Linked DNA regions of Homo sapiens. The protein of the gene in region 1 purifies or fractionates together with the protein of each later gene. This does not show direct contact. Each region holds a gene or a part of one and is shown in the gene's direction. Other genes may lie near its edges.

Region 1 (5,833 bases):
GAAAGTATCGAAGTCTCTAGTTATTGTTGTTGTATTAGCTCTTCCTCCCTTCATTTCTTCTTGGTTTTGGCATCATATATTTTGGTGCTCTGTTGTTGCTACATACATGTTTATAATTTTGTATATATTGTTTAATAAGTAATGTCTAAAAAAGAGCTATAAACTGAAAGACTGGCAAATTCGAAATTTTGTGGAAGAGTGAATATCTGTGGATTCAATTATTGGAAAAAATACGTTAGTAATCCAGAAAATTCATACAATTTTTTTAAACAGTATATTAGTTACCTACTGCTGTGTGACAAATTGGCCCAAAACTTAGTGGTTTAAACAACATATTACCATCTTACAGTTTCTGTGAGTCAGGAATCAGGGCACAGCTTATCTGGGTCTTCGACTTCAGGGTTTCTCATAGACTGTAATCAAGGTGTTGACTGGGATTATAGTCATCTCCTGGGGAAGGGGCTGCTTCTAACCTTACTCACATGATTGTTCGCAAGATTTAGCTCCTTGCCAAATGGGCCTCTTCAACATGGCAGCTTGCTTAATCAAAGCGTGCAAATTGATAAGGCAATAGAGAGCGAGTGTGAACAAGACAAAAGTCACAGGTTAGTCACCTGGTCTTGGAAATGACATCTCATCACTTTGCCATATTTGGTAGTTATAGCCCACATTCAGTGAGAGGAGATCACACAAGGGCTTGCGTATAGGTGGCAGGGATTGATCATATGGGAGCCCTCCAAACAGTTTTCTGTCTGTAGTTAGTTATATGTAAGAACATAAGGAAAAAGTATATCTAAATATATTTATTAGTTGCTACTCACATACCAGCCAAATAATGAAATGTGTTTATACTCTGTGAAGACTAAAGTAGAAATGATTTTTGAAAATGAATAAATATGTTCTGTGAGTTACCAGGAGAGAAAAAAAAAAGAATAAATGATATAGCCTTTTGCCAATCTGAAAAAGTTTTGTTTTAACTTGAGCACATGTAACTATAAATATTAAAACATTAATTCTTATTTCATCCTTGATGGTTGATTAAAATATAGCTTCCTTATATGGATAAAAAATTTTGGACTCAGTGTTTAGTAACCTGCTCAGGATCCCTCAGAAATTAGGGTCTAATGTTGTAAGAATACTTGGAGTCTTACGTAGGCTTGTTTTTCTAGTAAATCTCCATGTCCTCAGAATTCAGAGTGTTTTGTTATTTCTTATATGTGCTGTACAGAAAAGATCTTACAGTGATCACTGTAGAAAGAAGAGAATTTCTCAGCAGTTTCTAGGGAAGATTGTTTACTGAGGGTTAGAGCAGGAGGGGTGAAAAGTAGTTATGCTTGAGTATCTGCTTTCCTGTCTGGGAGGCAAAAGGGTATGATGCAAATACCACTGGGCTTGCATTTCTGAAGAGCTGGGCTGGGGAGTCCTAATCTGCTGTTTACTAGCTAAATTACCTTGAGCAAGTCACTTATGCCACTCTAGGATGGTTTTATCATGTATAAAATAAAGATGTCACCCTATCCACTTATGAAAGCCATCCATTAAATGCCTGCCTTATAGTTCTTACTGTATTAAACATTTTATATATGTATTAGCTCATTATTCCTCACATCAAGTCCCATGTGGCAGTTATTATTAACCTCATTCTAATAGAGAACTTCACAGCATTGTATGAAGACTTTTAAAGAAGCTAGTGAACATACAATTGGTTAATATACTCTACAACACCATTATAAATTAAAACAAATTTTTATATGGCATTTAGGAAATTGATAAGTAGATATATGGAGACAAAGGCTTATGAGATAACATGACATTTTAGAAAATTGATTTAGAGTTAATGAATATATATATATATATATATATATATATATATATATATATTTTTTTTTTTTTTTTTTTTTTTTTTTTTTTTGAGACAGAGTCTTACTCTGTTGCCCAGGCTGGAGTGCAGTGGCACAATCTGGGTTCACTGCAACCTCTGCCTCCCAGGTTCAAGCAATTCTCCTGTCTCAGCCTCCTGAGTAGCTGGGATTACAGGCATGCACCACCATGCCTGGCTAATTTTTGTAGTTTTAGTAGAGACAGGGTTTCACCATATTGGCCAGGCTGGTCTCAAACTCCTGACCTCAGGTGATCCTCCCTGCTCGGCCTCCGAAAGTGTTGGGATTACAGGCATGAGCCACTGCGCCCAGCAGAGTTAATGAACTTTTAATACATGAGCTTTATAATTCATAAATTACCATAAAATAATATTTGTTAAGTTTGCACCTTTGTATGATATCATGCCAAAAAAAAAGCTAAACGGACAGGCCTTGGAAAATGATAGGTGGTACTTAATGGTGAATACTCTGAAGCCATCTTAGTCCATTCTCGTAACTAGTGGGGAAAAAAACAATAATTCAAGCCTTTGTGCTATTAAAGTATATATATGTGTATGTATGTATAAATAAATTTGTATGCATTGTTATTGATTGCAGGGCAATTCATGATGTTAAAGCCACAGATCTGGGATTAGGTAAAGTAAGATTTAAGGCAGAAGTAGATTTTGATGGGCGAGTTGTTACAAGATCATATTTGGAAAAACAAGATTTTGACCAAATGTTACAAGTAAGTTTATTTGTTGTTTTCTTACATAACTGAGGGTTAGAAAAATGCTTTTAAGGTAAACAAAATGAAATTTTTTTTTATAGATCTTAAAGGCACTTTAGCTCTCAACTTCTTAGGTTCCAAAATTTAACAGAGACCTTTATATTTACTATGGAGGGGTTCAGAGGAGACAGCAAAAGAACAAACTTACTATTTCATGCTTGCTATGTGCATTTAATCTTTTTTTATCTAATTTACCCTCAACAACCCTGTTATTTCAACAATGAAATAACATTTTTATTTTAACATATATAGAAATTGAAAGACAGAGATTAAGTAATTTGCCTTAAGTTGTAGTGCCACAGAGATGGAGTCATATATGAATCGAGATCTGCCTGACTCCAGAATCCATTTTTTTATTAAGAATAGTTTAAAAGAGAATTTATAAAACAGAATATAATGAACAGCACAGATGTTACCACTTGCCCCTGTCAAATCTTAACATTTTGCTATAGTGTATTTGCTTAAGGTCTTAAAAAAAGAAATAATTACAAAAACAATTCAAGCCCCCATTTTCTCTTTCTATATCTCATTCTTCTTCTTCCATCCCTAGAATTAAACATTATGCTGAATTTGGTACCTGTCTTTTCCATTCAGATTTTTATACTTTTCAGCATTTTTTAGTGTAATATGTAACATTTTGAATGTTTAAAAATTGGTATAAATGGTATCCTACTGTATGCGTCTCTACAATTGGCATAACAACATATTTTTTAGATTCTTCCGTGTTAATTTATATATCTCTAGTCAGTTTACCTTCATTGTTATAGAGCATTTCATCCTATGAATATGCTGTAATTTATTTATTTTGTCTCCAGTTGATGGACATTTATATTACTGTTAGAAACAATGCCATGGCCGGGCGCGGTGGCTCACGTCTGTAATCCCAGCACTTTGGGAGGCCGAGGTGGGCGGATCACGAGGTCAAGAGATCGATCCCATCCTGGCCCACATGGTGAAAACCCGTATCTACTAAAAATACAAAAATTAGCTGGGTGTGGTGGTGCGTGCCTGTAGTCCCAGCTACTCGGCAGGCTGAGGCAGTAGAATCGCTTGAACCTGGGAGTTGGAGGTTGCAGTGAGCCTAGATCGTGCCACTGCACTCCAGCCTGGGCGACAGAGCGAGACTCCGTCTCAAAAAAAAAAAAAAAAGAAAGAAACAATGCCATGATTGCATTCTCACACGTTTCCTTGTTCACATATATGAAAATTTCTTTAGTATGGTGTATATATAGATAGCTAGATTTTAAATAGGTGGGCCATTGGGTGTACTTACCTTCAGCTTGCCTAGGTCTTACCAAGTTATTTTCCAAAGTGTGTCAATTTAACTTCCATCATTGTATATCAAGGTTCTTGCTTCCTATTCTTACATGATTGTATTAATAGAGTTATTAAATTTTTGCCAGTTTGATAGGTGTGAAATAGTATCTTGTTCTAATTTTATTTCTTGGAGCATTGAGGTTAATAAACATTGAAGTTCATTGACCAGTGGGATTTCCTCTACATTGCTCCCTGATTTTTCATGTTTTAAGTTCATTTGCATTACACTTATAGATTTGAAAGGTCTTTATTTTATTGCATTGTATTATTATTTTTTGAGACAGAGTCTCGCTCTGTCACCCAGGCTGGAGTGCAGTGGCGCGATCTTGGCTCACTGCAACCTCCGCCCCCCAGGTTCAAGCAATTATCTACCTCAGCCTCCCAAGTAGCTAGGATTACAGGTGCCTGTGACCACACCCGGTTAATTTTTCTATTTTTAGTAGAGATGGGGTTTCACCATCTTGGCCAGGCTGGTCTTGAACTCCTGGAAAGGTCTTTATTTTTAATATCCTGGATGCTAATTCTTACTTGTATATATGCAATTATTTTTTTCTAGTTTATAACTTCCTTTTCTTTTTGTTGTTATACAAAATATTTAATATGATTTTTAATTTTAATGTGAGATTTGTAATCTTTTCCTCTGTGCTTTTTATTCTTTTGCATGAAAAATCCTTCCATATCCCATTATCATAAAAATATTCTCTTCTCATCTAGTAGTTTTGTGGTTTGTTTTTTACCCTTATGTCTTTCATCCACTTTGAATTATTTTAATGGTCTGACATAGGGATTCAATTTTTTTTTCTTAAGGGAAAATATTCTAACACTATTTATTGACTATATTATTTCCCCAGTAATTTTGTAGTGCTACCTCTGTGTAGTATTATACTCAGTTTTCTTGATCCGAATTGTTTTGGAAATAGGTAATCCATTGCCTGTGGCTTAAAGTTTTAAAAATGTTCATTAAACTTAATGGCGTTTGTTATAGGTTTGTTTTTTTTTAAGGAGTCATAAGTGTACCACTATGGTTTTTTAAAAATTTATTTTCCTGTTTTCATTTTCTTTATAGGAAATTCAAGAAGTGAAAACTCCTGAAGAACTAGAGACCTTTATGCTTAAACATGGAGAAAATATTATTGATACTTTAGGAGCTGAAGTAGATAGACTTGAGAAGGAACTGAAAGTAAGATGTATTCATAAAAATAACATAATGATAATGGCAGCTATTTTTTTGAGTACTTACTCTACAGCAGACACTAAGTGCATCCATCACATGCATGCTTTAACCCACTCATAACTCCACAGTGTGTAGGTATTTATAAGCAAGAAAATGACTGGGTTAGATAAGTTGAATAATTTACCCAAGGAAATAGGGAAATTGTGATTTGAACCAGATTCTTTACTTTTAAACACTATTTTATGCAGCCTGCTTAGTTTCTAAAATAGTCAAAGGGGGTTTTTTTGTTTGTTAATAAATAAGCATTTTGAAAGTTCCTAGAGAAAGATGAAAAGGAAACTTTAGACTGTGGTCAAAAGTTAGAAAAAATAGAATGTATATCTTGCTTTTAGCCCATTTGAAATTATTTTCTGTTTTTGTTTGTTTCTATTCAGTTGGATGTTATTGTAATTTATTGATTATGTTACTGAAATATTACCTGATCCTGATCAGGTTGTCTTTTAAAATGTCTCAGTGTTCTCAAATTGCCATTTATTGACATTTGAATTCTGTTTGCAATGAATAAAAACTTGTAAATGATCTTTAATGTATATAATTTGTTGAAGGCAGTGCTTTTTCTGCAGTTGATATTGACCATTCTTTAATTTTGTAAAAAATTGAAGAAAAAAACTTCCATCTCTACTTTTCAAGTTT
Region 2 (5,833 bases), on another chromosome or scaffold:
CAAACTGTGTGACAAACCTGGAGATTCTTCTAGAAGATACAGTGAAGATTTTGCGGGTAGAGGTGGAAATAATCGATGTTAATGATAACCCACCCAGTTTTGGGACAGAACAGAGGGAAATAAAAGTTGCTGAAAATGAAAATCCTGGGGCAAGATTTCCTCTTCCTGAAGCTTTTGATCCGGATGTAGGTGTAAACTCCCTGCAGGGTTACCAGCTCAACTCAAACGGTTACTTTTCCCTGGACGTGCAAAGTGGGGCCGATGGGATTAAGTACCCAGAGCTGGTGCTGGAACGCGCTCTAGATCGCGAGGAAGAGGCGGTTCACCACCTCGTTCTCACGGCCTTCGATGGAGGTGACCCGGTTCGCTCTGGCACTGCCAGGATTCTCATAATACTTGTGGATACCAACGATAATGCTCCCGTGTTCACTCAGCCCGAGTACCACGTAAGTGTTCGTGAGAACGTTCCTGTAGGCACTCGGCTACTCACCGTAAAAGCCACTGATCCAGATGAAGGAGCCAATGGAGACGTGACGTATTCTTTCCGGAAAGTAAGAGACAAAATATCACAGCTATTTCAGTTGAATTCTCTGAGTGGGGATATAACAATATTGGGGGGTCTAGATTATGAGGACTCTGGATTCTATGACATAGATGTAGAAGCCCATGATGGGCCTGGTCTCCGAGCTAGAAGCAAGGTACTGGTGACAGTTCTGGATGAAAATGACAACGCACCAGAAGTCACAGTTACATCTCTCACCAGCTCAGTCCAGGAATCTTCTTCCCCGGGTACAGTAATTGCACTTTTCAACGTGCATGACAGTGACTCAGGAGGAAATGGCCTAGTCACATGTTCTATTCCAGATAATCTGCCATTCACACTTGAAAAGACCTATGGAAATTATTATCGGTTGTTGACACACAGAACACTGGACAGGGAAGAAGTCTCAGAATATAACATCACTGTAACTGCCACTGACCAGGGAACTCCTCCACTGTCTACAGAAACTCATATTTCACTGCAAGTGATGGACATCAATGACAACCCACCCACTTTCCCTCATGCTTCCTACTCTGCTTACATTCCTGAAAACAACCCCAGAGGAGCCTCCATCTTATCTATGACTGCTCAAGACCCTGACAGTGGTGACAATGCCCGAATCACTTACTCCCTGGCCGAAGACACCTTCCAGGGTGCACCTCTGTCCTCCTATGTCTCCATCAACTCCAATACAGGGATCCTATATGCTCTTTGCTCCTTCGACTATGAGCAGTTTAGAGACCTGCAGCTGCTGATGACAGCCAGTGACAGTGGAGACCCTCCACTCAGCAGCAATGTGTCACTGAGCCTCTTTGTGCTGGACCAGAACGACAATGTCCCTGAGATCCTGTACCCCACCTTCCCTACTGATGGCTCCACTGGTGTGGAGCTGGCACCCCGCTCCGCAGATTCCGGCTACCTGGTGACCAAAGTGGTGGCAGTGGACAGAGACTCAGGTCAGAATGCCTGGCTGTCCTACAGCCTACTCAAGTCCAGCGAGCCGGGACTATTTGCAGTGGGGCTGCACACAGGCGAGGTGCGCACCGCACGGGCCCTGCTGGACAGAGACGCGCTCAAGCAGAGGCTTGTAGTGGTCGTCCAGGACCATGGCCAGCCCCCTCTCTCGGCCACCGTCACACTCACTGTGGCTGTGGCCGACAGCATCCCAGATGTCCTGGCTGACTTGGGCAGCCTCAAGCCTTCAGCAGACCCAGACGACTCGGGCCTCACACTCTATCTCGTGGTGGCAGTGGCCGCTGTCTCCTGCGTCTTCCTGGCTTTTGTCACGGTGCTGCTAGCACTCAAGCTGAGACGCTGGCACAAGTCACGCCTGCTTCACGCTGAAGGCAGCAGGTTGGCAGGTGTGCCTGCCTCGCACTTTGTGGGCGTGGACGGGGTTCGGGCTTTCCTGCAGACCTATTCCCACGAGGTCTCCCTCACCGCGGACTCGCGGAAGAGTCACCTGATCTTCTCCCAACCCAGCTATGCAGACACGCTCATCAGCCGGGAGAGTTGTGAGAAAAGCGAGCCTCTTCTGATAACTCAGGATTTACTTGAAACAAAAGGAGACCCTAATCTTCAGGTGAGTCAATCTTATAATAGATCATACCACACTGAAATATAGACAAAGAGTTGTGTAAATGTCTCTCATTTTATATGTAATATATCAAATAAAGTTGCCTCTTTTAATATTTTATTGCTTTAAAGAAAACTGGTGGATGACCTTCCAATAATGATCAACAGTATTTACCACACAAAAATGTTGTTTATTACTTATCCTTTTTGGTCTTCATTCAGTTGTAGTTTCAGCCAGAATTTTCTAATTTTACAACTCTGAGCCACCTCATTTCCTTAAATTTCCTTTTCTGTGCTGGGTGTGGTGGCTCACACCTGTAATCCTAACACTTTGGGAGTGTGAGGAGGACGGATTGCCTGAGCTCAGGAGTTCGAGACCAGTCTGGGCAACATGGTGAAACCCAGTCTCTACTAAAATACAAAAAGTTAGCTAGGCGTGGTGGTGTGTGCCCGTAGTCCCAGCTACCCTGGAGGCTGAGGCATGAGAATTGCTTGAACCTGGGAGGCAGAGGTTGCAATGAGCTGAGATCATGACACTGTACTCCAGCCTGGGCAACAGAGCAAGCCTCTGTCTCCAAAAAGTAAAATAAAATAAAGTAAAATAAAGAATAAATTTCCTTTTCTCTTAGGTGTTCCTGAAAAGATACAAGAGACCTGTAAAATAGAAGGCAATTGTGTAAATTCACATTTACAATATTCTTTCTCATGAAGCTATTGTTGGATCTGGACTGAGGGTTTTTTAATTTCCTATTTTCACACTCTACCATGCTTTGCTTGAAGTTTACTTTTCCTTCCTTGAAAGGGTATTTTCCATTATAACAGGCAACGTCAATTTAAGAATACTGGCAATTTGTGAGTTTAACTTTTAGATATAACTTTAACAGGATATTTTCTCAATGAACTGGTATATTTCAAATATTTTCTTGTTGCTGTTCTGAGATGCACCAGAAGTGACTATGTGTGATTCCTCTGGTGCACTCCTGTGATTATGAGAAATATTTCCAAGCTAATTTCAGTCATATATAAGTAGATTCTAGGAGTAACTTTAATAATTTTTAAATTGCTTATCATGACATCACTATTGAGACTTTCTTGATTTCCAAGGAAAATATAAGTTTTTGGAGTCTTTTCTCTTGTCATCATGTGAGCCTCTTTCAAAGGTTGAGTTACTTGGGTTCTGGACTGATATGATTTACGCTGCTTAGTAAGGTGGCCTCATCCCTATTGCTACAAATTGCTTTCAGATATTTCTGTCATCATGTGGCTCTGGGATTATTTTATATGAGGGAAAATATTTTGTGTGTAGGGGATATACAACACTTTTGTTCTTTGTGCTTTCATTTAGGTTCTGTGAGAATTCAAAATTCATGAATGCATATGCTTACACAAATTAGTGTAATTTGATAACTGGAAGTTGTAGTGATAGACTGTGGAATATGCCTCAATTTGACTTACAAAGGAGAGTTTTAGTTTCTACATGGTTTTGTATTCATAGAAAGTTGTGGTGCAATACATAGAGTAAGCTGGAATATGATATGATGCAGTTACCTGGCTTGGGGAGCAGAAAGCAGAAATAACAAGTGAATGTTGAGAGACAACTTACATCTGAGGAGAGATTGTTTAAAGTAATTAAGCCATAAAATATAATTTGGAAATGCTCAATTGGTCTGAAACTGTGTCAAGCATATTCAGGTGTTGGCATTAGGAATATATTCCAGAATGAGAGTGCCACATGTTTTAAAGGCCTAGGAAAGCAGTAGATAATTTATAACCTAAAATCAAATTTTTTAAAAAATGTGTTTTTGTTAGAATGGGCAGTGGGTTTCTTTTAGCAAATAACAATTTTGATTAAACAAATTGTTGTATATTCATATTACGGACTACTAGATAACTATATTATGGGCCACTAGATAACTATAAGAAATAAATAGGAAAGCTCTCTATGTACTGATATGATCTTTAAGATATAACAACTAAAAAAGCAATGTGCAGAATATGGTATGTTGTATGCTTACATTTGTGTAAAGAAGGAGACAGAATATTTATAAAAATCCGTTGCCCTATACAAGACATATCTCCGGAAGGATACCTAAGAAACTTTAACACTCATTTCCCCTGTGAAAGCATTTCTCCTCATCTAAAGCAGAGATGAAAGGAAGAACCTATGCTGAATGCATCTTTTGAATTTGGAACTATATGAATATTTCACATATTTTAAAACAAATGAAGACTTTATAAATTAAAAAAGAAAAGAAAAGAAAAAAGTTCTTAGCAAATATTGACAAGCCATTAGTGCAGTTTCCTGAGAAAACCTCTGAGCGTCGCTGTTGGTCAAAAGAACGAAGAGAAGCGTTTGGGAGCCTCTTAGAGGGGAACTTCCTGCACAAACCAACCACACAGAGAAGGCCAGTATAGATTCGGAAACAGAAAACAAAAGCAGGAAAAGTGACCTTAGCCCGGATTCTGCCATCCCCGGAAGGCTTATTCCTCCTATGGGCAAAGGAGCAAAGGGAGCCAGAAGATGAAAGCGAGCTCAGGGAGGTGCGGGCTGGTGCGGTGGCTGCAGGTACTGTTGCCCTTCCTGTTGTCTTTGTTCCCCGGGGCTCTCCCAGTCCAGATCCGCTATTCAATTCCAGAGGAGCTGGCCAAAAACTCGGTCGTAGGAAACCTCGCCAAGGATCTGGGGCTCAGCGTCCGGGACTTGCCAGCCCGGAAGCTGCGGGTTAGCGCGGAGAAGGAATATTTCACAGTAAACCCAGAAAGCGGAGACTTACTTGTGAGTGACAGAATAGACCGAGAACAGATATGCGGGAAGCAGCCTCTGTGTGTTCTGGATTTCGATACTGTCGCTGAAAATCCACTAAATATTTTCTACATAGCAGTAATTGTGCAGGATATAAATGATAATACCCCGCTATTCAAACAGACTAAGATTAATTTAAAAATTGGCGAATCCACTAAGCCAGGTACAACATTTCCACTTGACCCAGCCCTGGATTCAGATGTTGGTCCTAACTCACTACAAAGATACCACCTTAATGACAACGAGTACTTTGATCTCGCTGAGAAACAGACTCCAGATGGTCGTAAATATCCTGAGTTGATTCTAAAACACTCTCTGGACAGAGAAGAGCACAGTTTACATCAATTGGTCCTCACAGCTGTGGATGGCGGAGACCCACCTCAAAGTGGCACGACCCAAATCCGAATCAAAGTCACGGATGCCAACGATAACCCTCCAGTGTTCAGCCAGGACGTGTACAGGGTCACCCTGAGGGAGGACGTGCCGCCGGGCTTCTTTGTGCTTCAAGTGACAGCCACCGACCGGGATGAAGGCATAAACGCAGAGATCACCTACTCCTTTCATAATGTGGACGAACAAGTGAAACACTTTTTCAACTTAAATGAAAAAACAGGAGAAATCACGACAAAGGATGATTTGGATTTTGAGATTGCAAGTAGTTACACTCTGAGTATCGAAGCAAAAGATCCTGGAGATCTAGCAGCCCACTGCAGTATCCAAGTTGAAATTCTTGATGACAACGATTGTGCACCTGAAGTTATTGTGACTTCAGTATCTACTCCCCTACCGGAGGATTCGCCACCAGGAACAGTGATCGCCTTGATAAAAACGAGAGACAGAGACTCTGGAGAAAATGGAGAAGTTTACTGCCAAGTGTTGGGAAATGCCAAGTTTATTTTGAAATCTTCCTCAAA
Region 3 (5,833 bases), on another chromosome or scaffold:
ATAATATTACATTAAGTATTAAGCATAATACAGGCAGGTGCATTCAACTTGCATCTATTTTTTGGTATGGCCAAGAGAGAACAGTGAAAGAGATGCTGAGAGAGAAAGTTGATGTTAGGGCAAGGAGGGGATATCAGGCAAAAGAAAGCCATACTGAGATGTAAGAGCCAGAGGTAAATAAGAGGGAAAAGAAAGATTTAGAAAATTCTTTGTATGATGGCAACTATGCCAAGAACATTGAATTGGGAAAGAGGTGCTTGTGCTTCTTACCCTCTTTTCACAGCACCTTCTGACTGCAGGAGTTGTTTTGCATCTGCTTTGGTCAATCTCTTGCTCCTTTGCATGTTTGCTTCTCTCTTCTCTGTCTTTACTCTCTTCATGCTCTTTGCCTTAACACAACCCCAGCTTTGCCGTGTGCAATGCCCTAGGTACTGTATTTCGCTTCGCTTTGTCCCAGGAATGTGTATAATGCAATTACAGAATACCTCACTGTGTTGCAGAGGTGAACAATCATAGGAAATATGGGGGACATGTTTTAGTCAGGCTTTTTTTTCTTTTTTTTTTTCTTGGAGAAGGAGTCTCACTTTGTCGCCCAGGCTGGAGTGTGGTGGTGTGATCTCAGCTAACTGCAACCTCTGCCTCCCGGGTTGAAGCAATTCTCCTGCCTCAGCCTCCCAAGTAGCTGGGACTACAGGCACACGCCACCACGCCCGGCTAATTTTTTGTATTTTAGTAGAGATGGGGTTTCACTGTGTTGCCCAAGCTGGTCTCGAACTCCTGAGCTTAAGCAATCCATCCGCCTCAGCCTCCCATAGTGCAGATTTTACAGGCGTGAGCCACCGCGCCCAGCCCTACTCAGGCTTTAATTATTTATGGCAAGCCTGCTGTGTGTAGGACACTGTGCCAAGTGCTTTGCAGTATTTTTTTTATTGTGATAAAAGATGGAACAAAATTTATTATTTTAACCATTTTTTAAATGTGTAATTCATTGACATTGTTTACATTCACAATGTGTGTAACCATCACCACGGTTTATTTCCAGTACTTGGTCATCATCCCAAACAGAAATTGTAACCATTAAGAAATAAGTCTCCATTCCCATCTATGCCTTGGTAACCTTTATTCTGCTTTCTTTCTCTATGAATTTGCCTGTGTTGGGTACTTTCATGTGAGTGGTATCATAGAATATTTATCCTTTTGTGACTGGCTTATTTCATTTAGCATACTGTCAAAAAGGTTCATCCATGTTGCAGCATGTGTCAGAATTCATGTCTCTTCTCTTCTCGCTTTGCTTTCCTTTCCTTTTTCTTTATTCTTTCCTTTCCTTTCCTTTTCTCTTTTCTTTTTCCTTTCCTTTTTTCTTTTCCGTCCCATCATGTCCAGGCTGGAGTGCAGTGGCGTGATCTTGGCTCACTGCAGCCTTGAATTGGCAGGCTCAAGTGATCCTCCCATCTCGGCCTCCCAAGCAGCTAAGACTACAGGCATGTGCCTCCATGCTTGGCTACTTTTTGTATTTTTTTGTAGAGACCATGTTTCACCATGTTGGCCAGGCAGGTCTCGAACTCCTGGGCTCAAGCGATCCACCTGCCACAGCCTCTCAAAGTGCTGGGATTACAGGCATGAGCCATTGTACCTGGCCTCATTGTTTCTTATTGCTGAATAATATTCCATTGTATATATATACCATATTTTATTTATGCAATTACCTGCTTATGGACACTTGGGTTGTACATTATTTTTTATAATGCACTTGGTTCCGCTTAAATTTTTCTTGCCTTCAACACTTTCCAAAATGCCCCAGCACTCTTCTGGCTTTCATCCTTCTGATCCAAGAGAAAAAAGTTAGAATCTGAGTACTCTGCTTTTGAAAAACTGCACACTCGTATGTTATCGAGCAGCTTTTTCCATGTCCTCCATTTACTGTATTTATTTAACTAGAAACTGTCCACTCTATTCCAGTCACTGGTGGACAGAGGACCAGCCTTAGTGCTCACTTCATATGGCATCTTGACATAATAAATCTTGGGACGTCCATGAGCTAGCTGACTGTGCTTCGTGTTTAGCTCTTCACCTACTTATTTTTCTTTTTTTAGCGGGGAGACAGAGCCTTGCTTGGTCATAAAGGCTGGAGTGCAGTGGTGCAACCTTGGCTCACTGCAACCTCTGCCTCCTGGGTTCAAGCAATTCTCATGCTTCAGCCTCTGGAGTAGCTACAGGCATACACCACCACACCTGGCTGATTTTTGTATTTTAGTAGGGATGGGGTTTCTCCATGTTGGTCTGGCTGGTCTCAAACTCCAGGCCTTAAGTGCTCTGCCCGTCTCAGCCTCACAAAGTGCTGGGATTACAGGCATGAACCACTGCGCCCGACCCTTACCTAGTTTTTATTCCTAACTTTCAGAGGTCATAACTGATAATGGTGCAACTGCACAACTCAGTCGCTGGGAACCCATAGTTACAGTTAGGACCAGGGCACAAAATTCACTTACATGTAGAAATTCTCAGCACCCTGCTTAGACAGTTGCATGTATCTTGCACATATATCAGACTGCTTGATTCACAGCAGGACACATCAATTCATTGTCACCCAGCTGTTTGCTCTGTTCTTAAATGTTAGATGCTAAAATCTGGCTTAGTTAGTGAAGAATTAAATAAATGAGGTGAGAAGTTATCTTTTCTGTGGTAGTTGATGTCGTTAATGATATAATAAACAGTACCAGCACACTCCTGTTCTAAGGATGAACCATTCAAATAAATAAATAATAAAAGGACAACATAATAGGGACTTACTAGGTCTCAGGCACTTTGCTAAGCTCTTATGCATGAACTCATTTCATAATACCTTCTGAAGTAGGTGCTACTATTTTCTTCATTTCTAGTTAAAGCAACAGAAGCATCAGTAGGTTGACTCAAGTTGACAGCTAGAAAATGTCAGACTCTAGATCGAAGTGTAGGTCTATCTTACTTCACAACTGGAGCGCTATTTAACACACCTTAGGATTGTAGATTGTTTTGGTCAGAGATGATTTCTTATGTTCTAGTTGAGGAGTCGGCAATATTAGGCACCAAGTGAATAAATGAGTCATGGAAGAAAAGGGGGCACTGTTAAGAACCTTTTGAAGTCTCCTTTTATATGATAATCTTTTTAGCACTGTTCTAGTGTGGTAGTTTATAACTTATGGGGGATAACATGTATTAAAGAAATTGTTCATATTATTCTGGTGTGTTTACAGGTGGTTGCTGTATATGGAACTTTATCTGATTTGCTTTCTGTGGCCAGCAGTAAACTCGGCATAAAAGCCACCAGTGTGTATAATGGGAAAGGTGGACTGATTGATGATATTGCTTTGATCAGGTAACCTTCACCTTTTTATAAGCTGTCAACAGTGTGCCTCAACTTCTTGGTGCTATGCTGTTTCCCTTAAGCAGTAATTTAATCACTGTTAAGAGTACAGGATTTTGGCAAGTGTTTACCTAGAATTTGCTCTTTGGAATTTAAATCATTTGGGCTTAAGGTGAATTGATCAGCTAGAAAACCCTTAGTACATTTCAGTATACTGATAGTCTTTCTGCATAGTTCATATATAGCTATGAGGAATTTCTTCTTTGTGGTACTAGAGAAGGATCTAGTAAGACGTGCAGTTTTTAACATTAAAAATCTAATTCATCTCTTCACTTTTATATGCGCCTGCTTGTTAATCATTTCCTAAGAATGCTTTGCATTTTATAATCATTACAAAGGCCAGATTTTGTAAAAACTTTATAAATATGATAGAATTCTAAGTAGTGATATCACCAGTGATCCACCATAATTATAGGCTTATGTTTGTACCTTAAATATCTCAGGCAGATTTATCTCTTTAAAACAAGTGTGTAGTTCACCTTACTTCATCTTCATGAGGTCAGAGAATTTTGGAGCAGGAAGATGCTTAACAAAGAAGATGGTAAAGGGAACACAAATTAAGTATTGACTATGCCACTTATGTTATCATTGCTTTGCCTGAGTTATACCATTTAATTGGCAAAACATGAGTTTTTTTTATCAGTGATGTGAAGATAATGATGCTTTAACCTATAATGATATACAAAGTCTCTGTATAAATCTAGATCAAAATGACCTTTCAGTATAATATACTGCTTTGCAGTTAATCAGTTCTAGACCCTTCATTTTACAGATGAGGAAACGAATTACCTGTGAAGCTGAGGACTCACTCAGGTCATACAGCTAGTTGGGTTTTGTTAATGAAAACAGATTTTTATACTAATCTGAAAAAGTAAACTGGCATGGTGAACAAGTAGGAAATACTATACACTACATTTTAAATCCAAATAAATTAGGATAACTTCTTAGTTTTTCAATATGTATCTCCCAGCTTCTTTCAGTTTCTAAGGAAAACTGAGTCACATTGTTGGATGATGATCCTCATCAACCTAACTTTCTTCTTAACAAACACGAACTCTGCTTCTTAGAAAAATTTAACGTGTCCTGTGATGTCCTATAGGAAATAAAAACGTCTACAATGGAAGGTTATAATTGAAGCCTTCTGAGCTATAAGATATCTGTTTATTCATTTTTGGTTCACAATACAGTATCTGGGGTAATGGGTTGAGGAAGAGGATGTGCACTGATTGTCCAGAACTCTGGGTTATGTGCAGCCATTTACATTTGGGTGTATGGTGGATGTGTAGTGGGTAAACACTGACAGTAGAGTTACTTCCAGCTATATTTTTCCTAGATTTAATATGACAGTTTATTTCATCTCCAAAGCACACAACAGCTGATGATTTAGGGGTAAAAAATGTAAAGAAAAAAAGAATAGTTGGCTGTGACTTTAATCTATCCTTTCAGCATAATTATTCATTCTCAATTGATAAGAAAGCTGAACTCAACATCGTTTGTGTAAGGAGATTTTTTTCCCCACATTTCAAAAGTACTTTCATGTGCAAGATCTTATTTTTGAATTTAAATTCAAAGACAGTTAAGTTCAAGGGGTTAAACAAAGCATTGGAAACTTAGCTTCTTTGCAGTCTAGATTGATAGCAAAACCTATTGTCTATATAATTGTAAGGAATAGTTCCTATAAGCAACAGATAATTAATGTGATTTTTAGATTTTGATGGTAGCTTTTTAAATTTTGATTTCCCCAGGGATGATGATGTTTTGTTTGTTTGTGAAGGAGAGCCATTTATTGGTAAGTGACTTTAAAAGCCAATTTTATCTGCCAAAAAAAAAAAAAAAAGATGGAATGACAATTATTTTAAATGGGGCTATTAAGCTTAAACATTAAAAATGATCTTATGGCTGTATTCAAATCTTCACACTTTTTGATTCTGCATTGGGTATGTTAAAGTAAATTTTTTACTATATGATCGTAGTTTATTATAGATGCATGTTTTACATGCCGTTAAAATGCTCTGGAGGTATACATATTCATTAACTGTAACATAGTAAGGTAGTTTTGATCTTAGAAACAATTGTTTTGTTTGAAAATTTTTTCTTTGATGGTGAATGTCAAAATTTTTCTACGTGTTGTATTACATATTTGTGAGTAAATATTGCTTGCGTAAGTAGTGTTTGACAGTATTTCACAGTGATCAGATCAGCCAAAAAATGACTTGGTATCAACCACACACACAGGTGTGCACACACACTACCCTTTGATTTGGAAGAAAGCTTATAGTTGTATATCTCAAAAGAAAAGGCCGAAAGGAAGATAAAGTATTTGATTTATTTAGATCCATACAGTCCACACTCTGAATATTTAAGTATTTTTTAAAGCATCATACTAATTGCATTTGGTGAGTGGAAGTAGTTCTCACGATTGTTGCACAG
Region 4 (5,833 bases), on another chromosome or scaffold:
GCCATCACCTAAAATAGCCCTTTGGAAAGTGCTCATATAGAACTGAGAATTTTAGTGTAGTGGCAGGCTGGATTTGGGTAGGGTGCCCTTCGGTGGGCCTCCAAATCCTATGGGGAGCTTAATTACTTCATCTTTCTGTAAGGCCAACAGTTCTCAAAATTTGTGGTCTCAGGACAATTTTACACTCTTAAAAACTGAGGGAGATTTCTGGTCTGGACATGTAGTACAGACCTGTTTTTCATTGTTCCTCCCTGCTAAGCACAAGTATAAACCCTGGAAATAATGCAAGAGACAACCAGGGTAGAACTCTGGAAGGTTGTAAGGAGAAGGCAAACTGGTTTGAGACCCAGGGAAAAACAAAGAGCAAGGGTATCCTATGTTTCCCACCCAGCAGAAGAAAGAAACCTAGTCCTGGCCATTCCTGATACCCAACTGAACAACAGAGGGCAGCCCAGGTAAGCTTACTCCTCCCTCAGAGTCCCTCTGACAACATCAGGTAGGCCCAACACCACAGGTAAGGGGGGATCTTCAGAAACCCCACCAACAACAGTGGACAAAAGAAGCATTTGCCTTCTCCCCAGGCCTGAGATGTCCCACTTTCACCTAGAGATATCGAGGTGGGAGGGTAGAACAGACACGAGGCATAAAGTGATGGCAAGCGGCCCAGTCTGGGAAGGCTCTGTCTCAGTGGGTGTATGACTGTCCTCTCCTACCCATAGAGACACCAACAGTGCAGGGCGCCAGTAGAAGTGTCCCACCATACCTACCCCAACTGAGAGGCACCTGGAAGCCTGACCTAGGGAAACCTTTCTGCTCCTTCAGGCGATATGATCTGGGACAAATGTCAGCCTCAGTGATATCCGATAAACCAAACAGAGCAAAACAATACTGAAAATTAAACTGCTGTTAGAACAACAGACCACAAAAGTAAGCCAACACCTGCTTGCATGTGAAGCATAAATAATGTGACTGACTGCAAAAATAAAAAATGTAAATATGAGTTTCCTAACATAGTAGACAAAATGTTCAATCAAAAATCATCTGTCATACCAAGAATCAAGTAAATCACAACTTGACTGAGAAAAGGCAACTACTGCCAACATTAAGATGAGTTCGATGTTGGAATTATCTGACAAGGATTTCAAAGTAGCCATCATAAAAATGCCTCAACAATCAATTAACATTATCTTAAAACAAATAAAGAAAAAAAAGGAAACTTGCAGAAAAGAAAAAGAAGTTATAAAAATATAAGAAAGAAGGAAATTCTGTCATTTGCTACAGCATGAATGAACCTGGGGGACATTATGCTAAGTGAAGCAAGCCAGACACAGAAAGACAAACACCACATAATCTCACTTATATGTGAGATCTAAAAGAGTTGAACTCAGAATTAGAGTAGAATGGTTACCAGGGACTGTGGCTTGGAGGGAGTGGGAAATGGGGAGAAGTTGACCAAAGGGTACAAAGTTCCAGTTAGACAAGAGGAATAAGTTTTTAAGACCTATTTTGCAGCATGCTCACCATAGTTGATAATAATGTATGTGCATTTCAAAACTGCTAAAAGCATAAGATTTTAGTCTACACATTGGGTACAGTGTACACTGTTCGGGTAATGGGGGCACCAAAATCTCAGAAATCACCACTAATGAACTTATCCACGTAACCAAACATCACCTGTTCCCCAAAAAAGTATTCAAAAAAATAATAGATTTTAAATGTTCCTGCTATGAAAAAAACAAAACGAAACAAAAGATAGGTAGGCCAGATGTGGTGGCTCATGCCTGTAATCCCGCCACTTTGGGAGGCCAAGGAAGGTGGATCACTTGAGCTCAGGATTTCGAGAAGAGCCTGGGCCACGTGGTGAAACCCTATTTCTACCAAAAATACACACACACACACACACACAAAATTAGCTGGGCATGGTGGCATGTGCCTGTGGTCCTAGCTACTCGGGATGCTGAGATGGGAGAATTGCTTAAGCCTGGGAGGCAGAGGTTGCCGTGAGCCGAGATCACACTACTGCACTCCAACCTGGGTGACAGAGTGAGACCCTGTCTGAAAACAAAACAAAACAGAACAAAAAACAAAAAAAAGGATAAATTACGTGAGGTGATGGATATGTTAATTAGCTCGATGTAATTATTCCACAGTGTATGCATATATTAAAATATCACATTGTATCCCATAAATATATGCAATAATTATTTGTTAATTAATTAAAATAAAAATTAAGTTAAAAACAAGAATTTAAAAAATACATACTTTGCAATTATCTACTATTTTTCTAAAGACCCTTACAATCTATAGGCTCTTTCTCAGTTTTCTTTTTTCCCCCTTGGAATTATTTTTTGAATAAAACTGGCTTGTTTGTCCCCTCCCCCCAAAAAACAAATATAAATTATAGAACTGTAAAATAAAATAACAAAAATGAAAAACTGGCTGATGGACTCAATAGAAGAGCAGAGATGACAGAAAATAGAATCCATATCTGGTGAAACTATCCTTCAGGAATTAAGGGGAAATAATTAAATTCTCAGTTGAAGGAAAACAAAAAGATTTGTTGCTAGCAGACATACTGTTAAAAAATAGCTAAAGGGATTTCTTCAAACAGAGAATAAATGATAAAGAGCAATCAGGAAGGATGAAAGGACAACAGAAAGAGCAGAAATGTAAGTACATAAAGTAGACTATCTTTTAACTCATGAGTTCTATAAATCATATTTGATAATTGAAGCAAAATTATAACACCATTTTATACTCTAGACAATGATATTTAAAAGTGGGGAAGGTAAAGGAAACTAAATGGAAGTGAGGTTTATACACTTCAATCAAAGTGGTAAAATATTGATATGAGTAGACTGTTATGACTCACACATGAATGTTGAATACCCAGAGAAACCACTGGGAAAACTCTACAAAGATATATATTTTAAAACACTATGAATAAGTCAAGATGGAATCATAAAAAATGCTCAAGTAACTATCAGAAAAGCAAGAAAAGGGAAACAGAAGAATAAGAACTAAAGGGAACAAACAAAAAACAAATAATAAAATAGCAAACAAGAATAATATATCAATAATTACATTAAATAATTATATTGAATGCGAATACCACTACAGTAGTCCCCTTTTATCTGTGGTTTTACTTTCTGAGGTTTCAGTTACCCATAGTACAGTATAATAAGATATTTTGTGAGAAAGAGTGTGAGTGTGTGAACACAATCACATAATTTTTACTCCAGTACATTGGTATAATTGTTCTATTTATTAGTAGTTATCATTGTTAATCTCTTACTGTGCCTAATTTATAAATTAAACTTTATCATAGGTTTGTGTGTATGGGGGAAAAATATATATAGTATACATAGAGTTCAGTACTATCCATGGTTTCAGGCATCCACTGGGGGTCTTGGAATATATCTCCCTGGAATAAGGGGGAACTACTCTATATGCTATTCACAAGAAACTCACATTAAATTTGATGACATAGGAAGATTGCAAGTAAAAATATAGAAAAAGATGTACCACATAAGTATTAATTTTTCAAAAATCTGGAGAAGCTTCATTAATATCTGATAAAATAGTCTTCAGAGCAAAGAAAGTTAAAAGAGATAAACAGAGACATTACCTAATGATAAATGGATCAATCCAGCAGGAGGATACAATGATCCTTAATGGGTACACACCAAACAACTATGTCTCAAAATTCATGAACAAAAACTGATCAAGCTAAAAGAAGAAAGAGACAAATCCACAATTATAGTTGGGAAATTCAATACCCCCTCTCAGAAATTGATAAATCTACTAGACAGAACATCAGTAAATATAGGGAAGATCTGAAAAAGACAGTCAATTAACAGGATCCAGTTGAATATTTTTACGATTTTATATTGGTTTTTCCATAGTGGTTTTAAATTATATCTCTTTGTATAGAAAACTCCACCCAACAACAGCAGAACACACTTTTTTTTGGCACCTACAGAACATTCACCAAGATAGATAATGTGCTTGGCCGTAAAACAAACCTAAACAAATTTAAAATAATTGAAATCATACAGAGTATATTCTCTGACTACAATGCAATGAAACTAGAAATCTGTAGCAGAAAAGTATCTAAACACGTGGAAATTAAACAACACTGTTCTAAATAATCCGTGGATCAAAGAGGAAATCTCAAAAGGAATTTTTTTAAAAATGCGTAGAACTGAATGCAAATGAAAACACAACATATTGAAATATGTACCATGTAGATAAAGCAATTCTGAGAGAGAAATTTCTAACACTAAATGTTTACATTGGAAATAAAGGAAGGTCTTAAGTCAATAACCTAAATTTCTACATCAAGGATCTAGAAAAGAAGACCAAAATAAACCCAAAGCAAGCAGAAGGAAGGGAATAATAAAGAGCTGAAATCAATGAATTTGAAATAGAAAAACTATAGGGAAAAATTAATAACACAAAAATTTGCTTTTCTGAAAAAAAAATCAGTAAAACTGACAAACTTCTAGCAAGACTAATAAAAAGAGTTAAGACCCAAATCACTAATATCAGAAATGAAATATGGAATATCACTATAGATCCTGCAGTCATTAAAAATATAATGAGAGAATATTATGAACAATTATACATTCATATATTTGACAACTTAGAAAAAAATTGGCCAATTTATCCAAAGCAGCAAACTACTAGAACTCACCCAATATGAAATGGATAATCTGAATAGCTCTATAACCATTAAAGAAATTGAATTCATAATTTTAAAAGCTCCTACAAAATAAATCTCCAGGCCTAGATAGCTTCAGCAAATAATTCTAGCAAACATTTAAAGAATTATTAAGATCAGTTTTACACATTCTCTTCCAAAAAATAGAACAGGAGGAAACACTTCCAACTCATTTTATGAGGCCAGTATTATCCTGATACCAAAACCAGACAAAAACAGTACAAAAATAGAAAACTACAGGCCAATATCTCTCTCATGAACTTTGACACAAAAATCCTTAGCAAAACACTAGCAAATTGAATCCAACAATGTATGAAAAGAATTATACACCATGACCAAATGGGATTTATTTCAGGTTTGTAAGGCTGGTTCAACATTCAAAAAGCATTCAGTGTAATCCACCATATCAACAGGCTAAAGAAAAAAAAATATGATCATATCAACTGATGCAGATAAAGCATTTGACAAAATCCAATACCCATTCATCATTAAAACTCAGCAAGTTAGGAATAGAGGGTGTATTTGTTTCCCAGAGCAGCTGTAACAAATTGCCACAAATGGGGTGGCTTAAAGCAAGAGAAATTAATTCTCTCACAGTTCTGGAGGCCAAATGTTTTAAATCAAACTGTTGGTTTCTTCTGAGGTCTCTGAAGGAGAATCTGTGCCATAAGTCTCTCTTAGATGGCTGCTGGCAATTCTCGGTATTCTTTGGCTTATAGATGCATCATTCCAGTCTCTGCTTCTGTCTTCACAGAGCCTTTCCCTTTGTGAGTCTCTGTGTTAAGCCTCCCTCTCCGTTTTCTTATAAGGACAACAGTCATTGAATTTAGGGTCTGCTCTAAATCAGTGATTATCTCATCTCAGGATCCTTAATTACATCTGCAAAAACCCTATTTCTAAATAAGGTCACATTCACATATACTGGAGGTTAGAAATTGAACTTATCTTTTTGAGGGACACAATTTAACCCCCTACAGAGGAGAATTGCCTCAACTTGATAAAAACACCTACAAGTAACCTACAGCCAACATTATACTTCATGGTGAAAGACTGAACGCTTTTGCCCTATGATTGGAAACAATGCAAGGATGTCCACTCTCATCTCTCTTA

Evidence for each region.
Region 2: the proteins of SLC30A9 (region 1) and PCDHGB1 purify together in Homo sapiens (co-immunoprecipitation; one large-scale study listed by IntAct). This does not show direct contact.
Region 3: the proteins of SLC30A9 (region 1) and KCTD9 purify together in Homo sapiens (affinity purification with western blotting; one study listed by BioGRID). This does not show direct contact.
Region 4: the proteins of SLC30A9 (region 1) and VSIG1 purify together in Homo sapiens (co-immunoprecipitation; one large-scale study listed by IntAct). This does not show direct contact.

Annotation. Positions count from the first base shown.
Region 1 is NC_000004.12:42,073,180-42,079,012, forward strand, and holds part of SLC30A9 (proton-coupled zinc antiporter SLC30A9, mitochondrial), read left to right. Parts: intron 1-2,477; coding exon 2,478-2,607; intron 2,608-5,032; coding exon 5,033-5,146; intron 5,147-5,833. UniProt on the Homo sapiens protein: Mitochondrial proton-coupled zinc ion antiporter mediating the export of zinc from the mitochondria and involved in zinc homeostasis, zinc mobilization as well as mitochondrial morphology and health.
Region 2 is NC_000005.10:141,355,499-141,361,331, forward strand, and holds part of PCDHGB1 (protocadherin gamma-B1 isoform 1 precursor), read left to right. Parts: coding exon of another isoform or gene 1-2,165; exon of another isoform or gene 2,166-2,235; intron 2,236-4,495; exon of another isoform or gene 4,496-4,637; coding exon of another isoform or gene 4,638-5,833. Other genes in the region: PCDHGA4 (protocadherin gamma-A4 isoform 1 precursor), read left to right, coding at 1-2,123; PCDHGB2 (protocadherin gamma-B2 isoform 1 precursor), read left to right, coding at 4,638-5,833. UniProt on the Homo sapiens protein: Potential calcium-dependent cell-adhesion protein. May be involved in the establishment and maintenance of specific neuronal connections in the brain.
Region 3 is NC_000008.11:25,443,651-25,449,483, reverse strand, and holds part of KCTD9 (BTB/POZ domain-containing protein KCTD9), read left to right. Parts: intron 1-3,233; coding exon 3,234-3,355; intron 3,356-5,148; coding exon 5,149-5,192; intron 5,193-5,833. UniProt on the Homo sapiens protein: Substrate-specific adapter of a BCR (BTB-CUL3-RBX1) E3 ubiquitin-protein ligase complex, which mediates the ubiquitination of target proteins, leading to their degradation by the proteasome.
Region 4 is NC_000023.11:108,050,558-108,056,390, forward strand, and holds part of VSIG1 (V-set and immunoglobulin domain-containing protein 1 isoform 2 precursor), read left to right. Parts: intron 1-5,833.